2 separate regions of the Homo sapiens genome follow, and region 1 is linked to region 2. The links come from fine-mapping of genetic effects on gene expression. Tissue or cell type: whole blood. Region 2 holds a variant in brackets; the other region holds the start of a gene. All regions are shown on one strand. Distances are between the middles of the regions.

Evidence for each region. PIP is the estimated chance that this variant, and not a neighbour inherited with it, causes the effect.
Region 1: BRD3 starts here. The variant in region 2 is fine-mapped to the expression of BRD3 in whole blood (TOPMed, PIP above 0.99).

Annotation. Positions count from the first base shown.
Region 1 is chr9:134,063,892-134,071,989 of GRCh38, forward strand. It overlaps BRD3 (bromodomain containing 3), which reads right to left and starts at 4,135. Exons shown (of 12, transcript NM_007371.4): 1 at 4,054-4,135. RefSeq lists silencers at 3,581-3,830, 4,011-4,740.
Region 2 is chr9:134,015,646-134,023,744 of GRCh38, forward strand. No RefSeq gene overlaps it. Among named protein-coding and RNA genes, the nearest start is that of BRD3OS, 5.8 kb to the right of the region's middle. The variant C/T (reference allele first, on the strand shown) is at 3,987.

The sequences.
Region 1 (8,098 bases), 48 kb after region 2:
GTGGCTGGAAAAGTTGTCTCCCACAATACCGGATTAACTTCTGACGAACTCAGTACCTTGGGGGCCTGCGGCAAGGAGGGGGGCGGGGGCATGTTCCACGCCCCATCTTCCCAACACCAGGCTCCGAAGGCCCTGTGAGGAGGCAGCCTGCGAACTGACTCTCAGGGAACAGCCACAGACTGGTGCGAGACGCAGACAGCCAACAGCACGGACACAACAGGGTCCGAGCCTCCAGCCACACGCACAGGTCCTGGCTCCACTGCGAGCTCAATCAGGAGTGGCCAGAAGACTTACAATTTAAACCACCAACAGGTGAATGGCCCAAAGTGACACTTTCTCTTTAAAAGAGCTCTCGGTCAGGCATGGTGGCTCACACCTGTAATCTCAGCACTTTGGGAGGCTGAGATGGGTGGATCACCTGAGGTCAGGAGTTCAAGACCAGCCCGGCCAACATGGCGAAACCCCATCTTTACTAAAAAATTAAAAAAAATTAAAAAAAATAGCCAGGCGTGGTGGCGGGCACCTGTAATCCCAGCTACTTGGCAGGCTGAGCCAGGGAGAATTGCTTGAACCCAGGAGGTGGAGGTTGCAGTGAAGGGAAATCATGCCATTACACACCAGCCTGGGCAACAGAGTGATACTCTGTCTCAAAATAAGTAAATAAATAAATGAGCTCTCAAGCATCTTGGCCGAGCATGGTGGCTCACGCTTGTAATCCCAGCACTTCAGGAGGCAGAGACGGGTGGGTCACTCACGGCCAAGAGTTTGAGACCAGCCTGGCCAACATGGTGAAACGCCATCTCTACTAAAAATACAAACAAACAAACAAATAAGCAAGCCCTCAAGCCTCTCAGATGGCAGGAGCCCAGGAACCAGAGCAGGGAGGCCCGGGCACAGGGGCCCATGATGTCTGTGCCCATGATTTCACAGGAAGGAGAATAGGCAAAGAAAACCCTATGCTCCGCCACCAGCTGGGCACCTCTACAAGGTGGCAGTACCAACAAAAACACAGGAGCAAGGCCATTCTTGGCAAACGCTGACCCAAATGCACCTGGCACCCCATCATGCTTTGCTACCTGTGCATCTCTTCTGCTCCAACAAGGGGGCGGAGCCACAGGGGTCGGGAAGGCCCAAGGCAGACCCGCAAGTTCCAAAACCTTTTACGGCAAGAAGCCTTGCATTCTACCATGATTCATCCAGTTACCTTCTAGCTTCAACCAGATACTGGCTTCGTGATATAAGGGACCTGCTGGCTAGGCACGGTGGCTCATGCCTGTAATCCCAGCACTTTGGGAGGCCAAGGCAGGTGGATCACGAGGTGAGGAGTTCGAGACCAGCCTGTCCAACACAGTGAAACCCTGTCTCTACTAAAAATACAAAAAATTAGCTGGGCGTGGTGGCGGACGCCTGTAATCCCAGCTACTTGGGAGGCTGAAGCAGGAGAATTGCTAGAACCCGGGAGGTAGAGGTTACAGTGGGCTGAGATCGTGCCACTGCACTCCAGCCTGGGCAACAATGCGAGACTCCATCTCAAGAGGAGAAGAGAAAAAAAAAAAAAAAGGAACCTGCCTAGGACAGGAACCCCGTCAGGTCAGTTATACTTTGATGACCGGTCAAGGAAGCAAGAGGAGGATCCTCTGACCAACTGCGTTAACTGCTTTGAAAACCAAGAGACCCGCAGCACGACTTCAGGCATGCCCCCACCTCCCAGGCAGCAACGCTGGGAAGAGTAGGCCCCGGTTCCCCATACCCCGCCCCGGTACCGTGTGTATCCACAGCAAAACATGGCTCTTCCCATCGACAACTGGGCATAGCTGTTGGTTTTGTGCCAATCACCCCACTTGGGAAACCCTGAGCCACCATGCCTCAGGGAAAGTGGTGGCACTTCCTGGTGGCACCAGGAATCGCACAAGGCCATCACTGCCGCCTGGTGCACAGGGCTCCCGCGGCTGGCATCTCCAGAGCCTGGAGGAAGAGGGTAGAGGAAGGTAGCACCGGCTGCAGCAGGCCTGGCTGCTTCGCTCTGCACACCCCCACTTTCACTTTCTGGGTATGACTACTTCGGAGTGTAGGGCAGGCACTGTTTGCAAGTCCCGTCCTTCATTCAAAGCTCACTCACTTCCGAAGCAGGCGCGAGCTGTTGTCAAAGGAAAGTAATTACTCTACTTTCTAAAAACAAAACAAAAATAAAAATGGAGTGACTGCCCACTCGGAGAAAGCTTTTGAAATCCCTCCTCCCCGGATGTCCCAACGGCAGGGCTCAGGCTGGAGCTGCTCCCACAGTCTTTCCAGGCACCCGGTGCCCTGCTGAGGCACCGGGCCTCTGAGGCTACCCGGAAGGTCAGAAAGAAATGCCCCTCGCTCGCCTGCAGCCCGTCCTGTTACAGCGTGTGCCTTATCTTTCATGATCAGTAACCACCAGCACCCATCAAGGCCTCAACAGAGAAAACGGCAAACACAGACCTTTATTTGCAAATGAGAGGCTGCATCAGGGCTGCCAGGGAAGAACCCGGAGGGAGGGCTCCCTAACCCCCGAGGCCAGCCCCTTGCAGGGGTTCAGACCTTCCTTAGACCCCGTTGGAAGCCAGTAACAAACTACTTTCCCCAGAAAAATGCCATACAACTTTGCATAGATTCCAGGATCTCCCCAGGCATACTACATGGACCCAGGAAAAAAAAAAAACCCTCCATTTTAAAGAAAAGAGTAAGGGGAAAAGCCTACAAAAGAGCAGGGTAAAAAGAAAACTCTTTTCCTCTTCTGTTCCTTCTCACAGGGTAGGGCGGGGGAGGACGGGACACACGAAGCTGCCTCTTGCAGTTCCAGCCCAATTACTCTGCCCACCAATGCACTACAGTCTCCCCTCCTGGTTAACTTTTGCAGACAATGACCAAGTTTAATGTAAGGGGGAGAAATCCCAGTATCTATTTCTGAGCAGAAAGCTTTCAACCAAAATTAAAGATCGCAACCACTCAAGGATTGGGTCGAACGGAGGAACCCACACGATGGACGCCGGGTCCCTGCCCCCGGTGGGTCTCGGCGGGCCGAGTTCTCGCCCTCCAGGGAAAGGAGGCCGCGCGAAGCCCCCATCCCGGCCCTGCCCCCGAACGAGCAACCGGTGGAATAAGACTTCCCGCACGCCCCAGCTTTATTCACAGAGAGCCCACCAGGGCCATGTGGGTGTACACGGTTCGGGGTGCGCATTTCTCCCCGGATGGGCTTGTATCACGTTGTCACTCCGGCGCCCCCCAAAAGTGGGAAGGAGGGGAAGCACCCCCGTCCCTCCCGCTCCAACTCGCCCTCGCCCGGATTAAGCGATTTTCAGGCTGATTTCAAAACGGGAACTGGGTCTCCCCCTGGTTTGGGTGCAATAATCCGGCAACTCAGGGGGGCTCAAAGTCAGCTCTGGGCCCGTAACTCTGGGAGGAGGCCGCGCAGAGCCCAGGGCCGAGCCCGGCCTTGCCCCCCGCCCCGGCCGCGGCGCGCGGCGACGGTCCCCAGGCGCGGGCCCCAGCAACGGCTCGGGAGCGAGGCCGGCGGAACAGGCGCGGGGAAAGTGGCCCCGCGGAGCGCACGGCCGCAGGCCGGGGCCGCCGCGCGCACCTTCCCCCTCCGCGTCCTCCCTGGGTTCCCCCTTCGAAAGATGGCGGGCGGAGGAAAGGGGGAAAAAAATCCCTTCCGTGAGGGAGGGCGCGCGGAGGCCGGGCTGGCGCGGGGCGCGCGGGCCGCGCCAACTCCGGGCTGCGCGCCCCGGCCGCAGCGACGCCCCGAGTCCGGGACGGAGGCGGCCAAGCGGGAGCGGGAGGAGGGGAGCGGAGCCCGCGCCACCGCCGCCGCCACCGCCGCCGCGACCCCGGGCGGCCGCCGCGCTTTGTTGCATCGTGGCCGCGCACAAAGGCGGCGGCGGCGGCGGCGGCCCCGGGCGCCCGGTTCACCCGGACGCGCCGGCGGACTGCGCGGGGCGCTCGGGGCCGCGCTCCCCGGCCCAGCCCGGCCCGCCGCCGCCCGCGCCGCCCGCCGCCCCGCGCGCGCAAGGAAGCAAGAGAAAGGCGTACTTGGCCTCGCGGCTCCGGCGGCCGTCCCCTCCCGGCCCGCGCGGCCGGCTCCTCTTTGGCTCGCCGGCCCCGGCAGCATAATAGACGCGCCGGAGCCGAGCAGGGCTCATGCGCTGCGCCGCGGCGCCTGGCGGGAGTCGTAGTCCGCGGCCGGGCCCGCGCCGGGGCCGCCCAGGGGAGGCCGCGGGCGCGCGGACTACATGTCCCGGCCCCGCCGGCGCCGCGCCCCGCCCCGGGGGCCCCCGCCCGCCCCGCCGACCCGGCCGAGAGCGGGCCTGGCCCGGGGGGCGCGCGGGGGCGGGGCTCGGCGCCCGCCCGGCAGGGCAACAACGCTGGGACCCCGTGGGCCGTTCCCCGCCCGGGCCCGCACGGCTCTCCTCACCCCGTGTCGGGGACAGCGCCTGGCGGCGGATTTTCCGGTGCCCCAGGACGGCATGGAAGAAGCGGGCACGCAGCCAGCACCGCAGCCCCCGTCCGGGCACCCCGAGGCCCGCGGGAGCCACCCTCGAACCCCGGCCGCGCACGGGCGGGGCGGCGCGCACCTGCCGGGAGCCCGTGTTTGTAAACAAACCGCGCGCCTAATTAGCCTGGCGGGAGCGCGCGCGCGGGGCGGGGGGCGGGGCGTCGGTGCGCGCGGGCAGGTCGGCCCCGCCCGGGGAGGAGCCGCGCTCTGCCGCGCCCTCCGTGTCACCATCTCCCCCACCCGACTTGCTGGGGCGCGGGCGCCCAAGTTCGCTGTTGCTGGAGAGGGCGCCAAGTCCCCAGAGCTGGCGAAGAGTTAGGGGTGCTCCCAGCTCTGCCTGGGGACCTTCTCGCCCCAAGCCCCGGTTTCCCCATCTGCCCAGTGAGGGGCGGGAACTAGATACCAGGTTCCCAGCCTGAGATTCCGGGAGAGGGCCACCCCTGGCCCTTTTTCTGTATCTTGAAAGGTTCAGCCCGTGGACACGTTTTGCATCTTGTTTTGGGTGATGACGACTCGGGTTTACACATAAATCAAGTTGTGGGGGGGGGGGTTTTGTTGTTTTTTTGGTTTTTGTTTTTTTTTTTTTTTTTTGAGACGTTAGTTTCGCTCTTGTCACCCAGGCTGGAGTGCTGTAGTGTAGTGAGTGGCTCGATCTCGGCTCACTGCAACGTCCGCCTCCCGGGTTCAAGCCATTCTCCTGGCTCAGCCTCCCGAGTAGCTGAGATTACAGGCACCCGCCACCACGCCCGGCTAATTTTTGTATTTTTTAGTAGAGATGGGGTTTCACCGTGTTGACTGGGCTGTTCTCAAACTCCTGACGTGAGATGATCCGCCCACCGCGGACTCCCAAAGTGCTGGGATTACAAGCGTGAGCCAACGCACCCGGCCACATAAATCAATTTTAATCCAGCTGTAACTTAAGGTGGTTACACGTTGTGTACATTAGACCCCAATAAAAACGTCAAAAACAAAACGAGGTTCCTTGGTGCCTGCTGAACCTGCCAACTGCAAGGTCGAGTTTCCTTGTGTGGGCTGCACCCACCCCAAGCCCCTGGGGTCCCCAGGTGTGTTCCAAGTTGAGCAGCAGCTCCACTGCCTGAAATGCACACATCTATGCAATATTCACAAAGTGAGTGCCAGCACAGAGACAATTCATCCCCATGCTCACCCAGAAGGCAGGTGTTCTGTTCCAGGCTGACAGGTAAGGAAACAGGCTCAGTGAGGCAAAGGGTCCTGCCCAAGGTCACAGAGCCAATTTGCAGGACGGCTGAGACCCAAAGCCCCGGGGTCTTAGGAAGAGTTTGCAGGGGAAGCCAACACCTTTCCCAATCCTGTCCCTCTGTTTCTGCTGGGAGCCCAGGACCTTCTCACACTCCAGGGCAAGGCTCTAGGACGAGGTTCCAGCCTTGCCTTTCTAGTTGGCAAAATGGACAAAGTGCAGTCCTCAGGCGCAGGAAGGTCGGGGAGGGGGAATATGAGAGGTGAGGATCTGCAGGCAGTTCCCTTAGAACTACCATCCTGGTTGTGTCCCCAAACCCCCGGTGCAGTTCCTCAACCTACAGGCTTCTGTGTTAGCCACCTTGGAGGCTGCAACCCATTCCTGCTGTCTGCATCTCATCTCCTTGGGTATCTTGAGCACTCTGACCACCAGGATGGCCACCTCACCACTTACACAGACCCCACTGCACTCCTCCCAAGGCTAGAACAAAAAGCCTTTCCGCCTGGTCTTGACCTCAAGGAACCCAGGTACATGCACACAGCAGGCTGCCCTGACCAGCCAGCGTGTCTGAGGCTGCTGACCAAATGCCCCCAACCCTTATGGGCCTCCCACTGCCCTAAGGTGACCCCCAGGAGTATGGCAGGAACCCAGGCGCTCCCTGGGCACTGGCTCTGATGGAAGCACCAAGGTCCCCTTCTTTCCCTTCCCGCTGCTCACCCACACATGAGTGGCCCGGATGGCTCCATGGAGCCAACTTTCCCGAGGCTGGAGAAGTCTCTAGGAAGCAGAATCTGTAAGGGAACAGGACAGAAACTCTCATTTGAGCATCTCAGCCCCTGTGCTACTATCTCTGAAGACTAGTTTAGGGGCCACAGTGGCAAACAGCTGAAAGCCAGCAGGGCTGCCATTGAGAAGGGATTTGGGGTGGCTCTGCAGTCCCCTCCAGCCCCTAGCAGCCCATCATCCTCTCCCTTCCTGCTCAGGCTCTTGGAATTTTAACCTCTGGTACTGCTGAATTTCCCAAGTGAAGCCACTTAATCTCCCCGACCCAGGTTTCCTCCCCTGTCACAGGAGGATAAAAATAGAACCTGATCCCGCAGCTCTGGTAAGGGAGGGGGGCATGTGCAAAGGTTGGGGCTGTGATCAGGAGCAGGCTGCTGCCTTTGCCTCCTTGGCCATCACTCACCTCTCTACCTTCACGTTTTACTTCCTGAGCCTCCTTGTGGGCTGTCTCACGGCTCCATGAGAGCAGAGCACTTTGTCCATGAGGTATCCCTAAACATCCTTCAACAGTATCTGGCACCTAGTGGGTGCTCAATACATAGTTGTTGAATGAATAAATGTTCTCTTCTGCACCTCTGTCCTGCCCTCCAGCCTCCATCTGCAAACCTCAGTGTAGCCCAAGCTCTACCAGTGAAGCAGCCACCTGCTCACATCTAAAGGAGGACCCAGAGCCAGGCTCCAGCCAGTACAGGAGCCAGGGCCTCAGCTGCCTCCTCCTCCTTCACCCACAATGCCCCTTAAGGCAGCAGTCCCCAGCCTTTTTGGCAACAGGGACCAGTTTCATGGAAGACAATTTTTCCACGGATGAGTGGGGGCAGATAATGGTTTTGGCATGAAACTGTTCCGCCTCAGATCATCAGGCATTAGATTCTCATAAGGAGCTCACAACCTAGATCCCTCACGTGCGCAGTTCAGAGTACGGTTTGCGCTCCTGTGAGAATCTGATGCAGCTGCTGATCTGACAGGAGCCGGAGCGCAGGCGGGAATGCTGGCTCACAAGTACTCACCTCCTGCTGTGTGGCCCCGTTCCTAACAGGCCACGGACCAGTAACAGTCCAAGGCCCAGGGGTTGGGAATCCTGCCTTAAGGCGCAGAGCAGTTACATCATGGCACTGAAGTTTATACATCAGTTTCTTGAAAGTTTCATTATCATGTGTCTTTCCCCAGGACTGACCAGCTCTCAGCACAACTTTTTAAGAAAATGAATTTCTGTCTCCACCAAGCAGAGGCTGGGCTACAGAGAACTCTGGAGGGTGGAGGAGCAGAGGTTTTTAATTATACAATAATTTAGTGCCTACTATGTGCCAGGCCCTGTGTCAAGAGCCTTATGTACACCATTTTACTGAATCCTGGAACAGTTCTATGACGTAGGGATGATTATGTCTACTTTACAGGTGAAAATGGAGGCAAAGTTAGGTTAAATTACTAGCCTGAGCCATGAACCCAAATGTGGGTTCATATTTCATTTACAAAATATATTCCAGAAGACTGCACCTTGGTAGGGGAAGGTGAGGCATTTAACTTGAGGAAGCAAATGCCCAGATCTAAGTTCATTAAACTTCTCTTAGAAAAGGGTGGGA
Region 2 (8,099 bases):
TTTCGTGTGGTCTGTGACAATTAATGAACCAATATTGATACATTATTATTAATTCAAGTGCATACTTTAGTCAGATGTCTATAGTTGGTATCTTTTTTAAATTTAAATAGTGAGGTTTCCATTCATAAAATTTCTCCATTTAAAGTTTTTGTGCCAGCCGGGCACGGTGGCTCATGCCTGTAATCCCAGCACTTTGGGAGGCTGAGGTGGGCGGATCACCTGAGGTTGGGAGTTTGAGACCAGCCTGACCAACGTGGAGAAACCCCGTCTCTACTAAAAATCCAAAATTAGCCGGGCATGGTGGCACATGCCTGTAATCCCAGCTACTCAGGCGGCTGACGCAGGAGAATCACTTGAACCTGGGAGGCGGAGGTTGCAGTGAGCCGAGATCGCACCATTGCACTCCAGCCTGGGCAACAAGAGCAAAACTCTGTCTCAAAAAAATAATAATAGTAAAATAAAATAAAGTATTTGTGAAGTCCTGAATATTCCTAGGTATTTTTTAATTTTTCATTTGTGGGGGTACATAGTAGATACATATACTTATGGGGTATATGAGATGTTTTGACGCAGGCAATGTGGAATAACCACATCGTGGAGAATGGGGCATCCATCCCCATTTCCAGGTATTTGATATATTTTGAAATTATTGTAAATGGTATCTTTTTTTTTTTTGAGACAGAATTTCACTCTTGTTGCCCAGGCTGGAGTGCAATGGTGCAATCTCGGCTCACTGCAACCTCCACCTCCTGGGTTGAAGCGATTCTCCTGCCTCAGCCTCCCAACCAGCAGCGATTACAGGCATGCACCACCATGCCCAGCTAACTTTTTATATTTAGTAGAAACAGGGTTTCACCATGTTGGTCAGGCTGGTCTCAAACTGCCGACCTCAGGTGATCTGCCTGCCTTGGCCTCCCAAAGTACTGGGATTACAGGCGTGAGCCACCACGCCTGGCCTGTAAATGGTATCTTTTAAACACTTGTTTTCTGCTTTTTGCTGTCATTTAGAACAGTAGTTGACTCTGTAGATTAATTTTCCATCAAGCAACCTTGTGTCAACCTTGTTGATGGAAAAAAAAAAAGCTGTGAAATATTTAAAGAAGTTTATTCTGAGCCAATGAGTGACCATGGTCCAGAAAACAGTCTCAAGAGGTCTGGAGAAAGTGCAGTCGAGGTGGTTGGGTTACAGTTTGGTTTTATACATTTTAGAGAGACAGGATATATAGGTAAAATTATAAATCAATACATGGAAGTTTACATTGGTTCAGCCTAAAGAGGTGGGAGGTCTTGAAGCTGAGGGGGGCTTACAGATCATAAGCAGATTCAAAGAATTTCTGATTGACAACTGGTTGAAAGAGTTAAGCTTTGTCTAAAGACTTGAAGTCAGTAGAAAGAAATGCTTGAGTTGGCTGGGTGTGGTGGCTCAAGTCTATAATCCCAGCACTTTGTGAGGTGGAGGTGGGCGATCACCTGAGGTCAGGAGTTCGAGACCAGCCTTGCCAACATGGTGAAACCCCATCTCTACTAAAAATACAAAAATATGCTGGGCATGGTGGCACACGCCTGTGATCCCAGCTACTTGGGAGGCTGAGGCAGGACAATAGCTTGAACCCGGGAGGCAGAGGTTGCAGTGAGCCGAAATCACGCTACTGCACTCCAGCCTGAGCAACAGAGTGAAACTCTATCTCAAAAAAAAAAAAAAAAAAAAAATGCTTGAGTTAAGATAAGGGGATTATGGACACCGAGGTTCTTATTATGTAGATGAAGCCTCCAAGTAGCAGCCTTAGAGATAATAGAGGGTGAATGTCTCTTCTCAGACCCTAAAGGTGTTAGACCAAGCTTGTCCAACCTGTGGTCCATGGGTCACAAGAGGCCCAGCACAGCTTTGAATGTGGCCCAACACAAATTCACAAATTTTCTTAAAATATAATGAGATTTTTTTGTGATTTTTTTTAAGCTCATCAGCTATTGTTAGTGTTAGTGTATTTTATGCATGGCCCAAGATAATTCTTCTTCTTCCAACGTGGCCTAGGGATTCCACAAGATAGGACCCCCCTGGCCGGGCGTGGTGGCTCACGCCTGCAATCCCAGCACTTTGGGAGGCCGAGGCGGGCAGATCACAAAGTCAGGAGATCGAGACCATCCTGGCTAACACAGTGAAACCCCGTCTCTACTAAAAATACAAAAAATTAGCCGGGCATGGTGGTGGGCGCCTGCAGTCCCAGCTACTTGGGAGGCTGAGGCAGGAGAATGGCGTGAACCCAGGAGGCAGAGTTTGCAGTGAGCAGAGATCACGTCACTGCACTCCAGCCTGGGCGACAGAGACTCTGTCTCAAAAAAAAAAAAAAAAAAAAGATCAGACCCACCTGTATTAGACTCTCATTTAATTTCTCCTAAATCCGGGAAACGCCTAGAAAGGAAAGGCCAGGCTCCTAATAGAGATTCTTTACAGATGCAAATTTCCCCCACAGAAGACGGCTTTGCAGGGCCATTCCAAAATATGTCAAAGAAATGTATTTGGGGGCTGGGCACGGTGGCTCATGTCTGTAACCCCAGCACTTTGGGAGGCCGAAGCCAGTGGATCACCTGAAGTCAGGAGTTCGAGATCAGCCTGACCAATATGGTGAAACCCCGTCTGTACTAAAAATACAAAAATTAGCTGGGCGTGGTGGCGGGCGCCTGTAATCCCAGCTACTCAGGAGGCTGAGGCAGGGGAACTGCTTGAACCTGGTGGTGGAGATTGCAGTGAGCCAAGATCGTGGCACTGCACTCCAGCCTGGGCGACAGAGCGAGACTCCATCTCAAAAAAATAAAGAAATATATTTTGAGGTAAAATATTTTCCTTTCCTTCAGGGTCTGCTATCTGTCATGTGGTGCTATACAAGGGTCTGGTTGGAATTTGGTATCTTGTTGCCATAAAGAGTCTGTTTTGGCAGGGCGCGGGGGCTCACGCCTGTAATCCCAGTACTTTGGGAGGCCAAGGCAGGTGGATCACGAGGTCAAGAGATCGAGACCATCCTGGCCAACATGTTGAAACCCCATCTCTAGTAAAAATACAAAAATTATCTGGGCATGGTGGCGCACGCCTGTAGTCCCAGCTACTCGGGAGGCTGAGGCAGAAGAATCGCTTGAACCCAGGAGGCAGAGGTTGCAGTGAGCTGAGATCACGCCACTGCACTCCAGCCTGGCAACAGAGACTCTGTCTCAAAAAAAAAAAAAAAGTCTGTTTTGTCAGTCTCACGACCTCTATTTTAATGATGCTGGCCAGTGGTGCCTAAACTCCAAAAGGGAGAGGGGAGAACGAGACATGTCCAGCCTCCCTTCTTGTCATGGCCAGGAATGCTGTTTTTCAGGTTTCTCTGGGGTCCCCTTAGCCAAGAAGGGGTCTGTTCAGTCCACCAGGGGCTTAGGATTTTTATTTATTTATTTATTTTTTTAAAGCTTTTTTTTTTTTTTTTTTTTGAGACGGAGTTTCACTCGTCTCCCAGGCTGGAGTGCAATGGTGTGATCTCGGCTCATTGCAACCTCCACCTCCCGGGTTCAAGCAATTCTCCTGTCCCAGCCTCCCAAGTAGCTGGGATTACAGGTGCCCGCCACCACACCCAGCTAATTTTTGTATTTTTAGTAGAGACAGGGTTTCATCATATTGGTCAGGCTGGTCTCAAACTCCTGACCTCAGGTGACCTGCCCACCTTGGCCTCCCAAAGTACTGAGATTACAGGCGTGAGCCACCGTGCCTGGCCCTTAAAACTTTTTTGAGATAGGGTCTCACTCTGTCGCCAAGGCTGGAGTACAGTGGTGCAACCACAGCTCACTGCAGCCTTGACCTCTCGGGCTCAAGCATTGCTCCCACTTTAGCCTCCCAAGTAACTGGGACTTCAGGTACACACCATCATGCCTGGCTAATTTTTTGTATTTTTATTTAAAAAGGGGTTTTACCATGCTGCCCAGGCTGATCTTGAACTCCTGGGCTCAAGCAATCCACC[C/T]GCCTTGGCCTCCCAAAATGTTGGGATTACAGGCATGAGCCAACATGGCTGGCCAGGATTTTATTTTTGGTTTGCAACCTAAAAGGAAGAAGCTGAGGAAAAATTAATGTAAGTAGAGAGTTTATTTGGGCCAAGCTTGAGGGCTGCAACCCGGAGCATGCAAGTTGCCCTGAACATCCACTCCAGTTAGTAGCGGTTACTAGAGGATTTTTAAAGGAAAAGAAGGGGAGTTCCTGAATTGTTTACCAAAAATTTACATTAAAATAACAAGCTATTGATTGGCTATCCATTGTTTTTTATACACATATTCCAGGAACATGAAGACAATGGGTGGGGCAGCTAGACAGGAACAAAAAGACTTTTTTTTTTCCTTTGAGACGCAGTCTGTCTCTGTTGCCCAGGCTGGAGTGCAGTGGCGCAATCTCAGCTCACTGCAACCTCCGCCTCCCGGGCTCAAGCGATTCTCCTGCCTCAGCCTCCCCAGTAGCTGGGATTACAGGCACCCACCACTACGCCTGGTTAATTCTTTGTATTTTTAGTAGAGACAGGGTTTCACTATGTTGGCCAGGCTGGTCTCCAACTCCTGACCTCGTGATCCACCCGCCTCAGCCTCCCAAAGTGCTAGGATTACAGGTGTGAGCCACCTCGCCCAGCCCTGTCTTATTAATTTTAATAATTTGTCTGAGATTCTCCTGAATTTGTACTGTTAATTGAAAAAAGAACCCCACAATATCCATAAATACTCTGTTGCCCAGGCTGGAGTACAGTGATGCAATCATGACTCGCTGCGACCGCTGCCTCCTGGGCTCAAGCAACCCTCCTGCCTCAGCCTCCCAGGTAGCTGGGACTATAGGTGCCTTTCACCATGCCCAGGTACTTTTTGTAGAAATGGGGTTTTGCCATGTTGGCCAGGCTGGTCTTGAACTCCTGAGTTTAAGTGATCTGCCCGCCTTGGCCTCCCAAATTGCTGGGACTACAGGTGTGAGCCACTGCGCCTGGGTGACTTTCTTTCTCATAAAGGGTTACAGCCAGCAAGGTGGCCATCCCACAGGCTGGAAAATGTGCCTCTGAAGGAGGAGGGGTTGGGGCAGGAGCTCCATGCTGAACAGGTTGGCTAAACATACACATTCAACAGGTTATAGGAGGAGCTATGAATATTCATGAAGGTCCTGACAACATGCATACTGAACAAACATGCATGTAACATACAACTCATGTTCACCTTGGGGTGGAGACTTAGCATCAAAATGTACTAAAATTAGGCCTTATAGGCTGGGTGCAGTGGCTCGCGCCTGTAATCCCAGCACTTTGGGAGGCTGAGGTCTGGCCAATACGGTGAAACCCAGTCTCTACTAAAAATAAAAAAAAAACTAGCTGGGCACCGTGGTGCACACCTGTAGTCTTAGCTACTTGGGAGGCTGAGGCAGGAGAATCACTTGAACCCAGGAGGCGGAGGTTGCAGTGAGCCGAGATGGCACCACAGCACTCCAGCCTGGGCAATAGTGGGAGACTCCGTCTCAAATAAATAAAAATATATACATACATAAAATAAAATTAGGCCTTATAGTAAAAAGGTCTTTCCAGGACACAAAAGCACACAAGTATGCAGCCTCTCTGAACCAGCCGGAACCAATCCATAGTCAGTGGTCTTACCTGGAGAAAGTTGCTGAAATCAGTCTCTTGTTCAATGAAAGCTGTAGTTGGCTGGGCATAGTGGCTCACACCTGTAGTCCCAGCACTTTGGGAGGCCACGATGGGAGGATTGTTTAAGCCCAGGAATTTGAGATCAGCCTAGGCAACATGGCAAAACCCCATCTCTACCAAAAATACAAAAAGTAGCTGGGTGCAAACTCCACCTCCCGGGTGGACCTACTGGTACACCTAGTGGTGCACACCTGTAGGCCCAGCTACTTGGGAGGCTGAGGTGGGAGGATTGCTTGAGGCTGGGAGGTTGAAGCTGCACTCAGCCAGGATTGCACCACTGCACTCTAGCCTGGAGGACAGAGTGAGACGCTGTTTCAAAAGAAGAGAAAGCTAGTTATGGTGGGTGAATGGGGTCAGTTAGCATCTGGAGCTGGATGAGCTGCAAATCGTTTTAACATTGTTTATCTTGAGGTCAGTACTTACTTAGCTGCTAGAGAAAAGGAACAACCTCGTGGCAGTGAGAATAGAGTTTATTCTTTAATTGTAGAGGTGTAGGACTTAACTTGTGCCTGGCATGGCCCTAAATCTTATTAATTAATTAATTTATTTATTTTTGGAATCAGAGTCTCACTTTGTCACCCAGACTGGAGTGCAGTTGTGCCATCTTGGCTCACTGCAACCTCCACCTCCTGGGTTCAAGTGGTTTTCCTGCCTCAGCCTCCCAAGTAGCTGGGATTACAGGCATGCGCCACTATGTCCAGCTAATTTTTGTATTTTTTGTAGAGATGGGGGTTCACCATGTTGGCCAGGCTGGTCTCGAACTCTCAGCCTCAAGTGATCTGCCCGCCTTGGACTCTCAAAGTGCTGGGATTACAGATGTGAGTCACCATGCCCAGCCACAGGTCTTATTTATAATTTGGTATGTTATCGCCATAAAGAGTCTGTTTTTCAGTCTTCTATGTTTTCAGTCTTACATATTTTAACGCAAATGCTAGTGCCTTGTCTCTAAGTCACCAAAGGGAGGAGTTATAACGACATGAGTGGGCTCTCCTATCCCATCGTGGCTGGGAACTCAGTTTTAAGTTTTTTCTGAGGTCCCCTTGGCCAAGAGGGGATCCGTTCAGTCAGTGAGGAGTTTAGGATTTTATTTTTAGTTTATATTCCCTTCTTTTGGCCAAGATTTGCCAGAGATGGCATTGATGACCAAACTTTTATTTTGTCCTATATCGTTGCTGGGGCTGTGTGCTACCTGCACTGGGTCCATCTTGTCCCTTGGTGGGATCCCTATGGCCAAGAGACTTAGAGCCAAAAGACTGAAAGACAGCTAATTAAATGTTTTAGGACAGATAGGAAAGGAGATGGGCAGGCACTCATTCACCCTTAAAAACCTTTTGTGCAGCCAGGTGCGGTGGCTTATGCCTGTAATCCTAGCACTTTGGGAGTCTGAGGCGGGTGGATCACGAGGTCAGGAGTTTGAGACCAGCCTGATCAACATAGTGAAACCCTGTCTCCACTAAAAATACAAAATGAGCCAGGCATGGTGGCACATGCCTGTAACCCTAGCTACTCGGGAGGCTGAGGCAGGAGAATCACTTGAACCTGGGAGGCGGAGGTTGCAGTGAGCTGAGATTGCACCATTGTACTCCGGTCTGGGCGACAGAGCGAGATTCCATCTCAAAAAAATCAAAATAAAACAAACAACAACAACAACAAAAAACAACCTTTTGTGCAACATAAGAGGCAAAAACCAAAATCCAAAACGTGAGGTTACAAAATTGACTTATCTCTAAGTTTTATGTATTGAGCTATCAGCTATTTAGGTATTTGTGAACCATCTTTGATTCAGAGGGTCTGAACAAATTTTATCCCTCGAAACCAGCCCTTACAATCTCATGCGTTTACCTCTTCTGCAATTGTCCCTGGGCCTAGAGGGAGGGTGTTTGATATCAAATCAGATTGGAGCCAATGGGATTTTAAATCATTTTCAGATTCTGGAGATATCAGGTAGAAAAAGAGAGGTAATCTTCATTTTTTACTTAATTGTTGTAGCTATAAAATAGCTTAAAAGGAAAAACAGCTTTTTGACTCTGGAAAACAAAACATAAGTAAATGTTTCGAACAGAAATATAAGTCCTATTTGGTTTTGACAACGACAGGAAAAGGAAGCTTACAGGTAACTAAATATTCAAATTATTTAGTTCAAGGCATAGAACAAATTATATTAGCTTAGAGGCAATTTTTTTTTTTTTTTTTTGAGATGGGGTCTCACTCTGTCACCCAAGCTGGAGTGCAATGGTGCAATCTCAGCTCACTGCAACCTCCGCCTCCTGGGTTCAAGAGATTCTCCTGCCTCAGCCTCCTGAGTAGCTGGGATTACAGGCGCCTGCCACCACACTGGGCTAATTTTTTATATTTTTGGTAGAGACAGGGTTTCATCATGTTGGCTAGGCTGGTCTCGAACTCCTGACC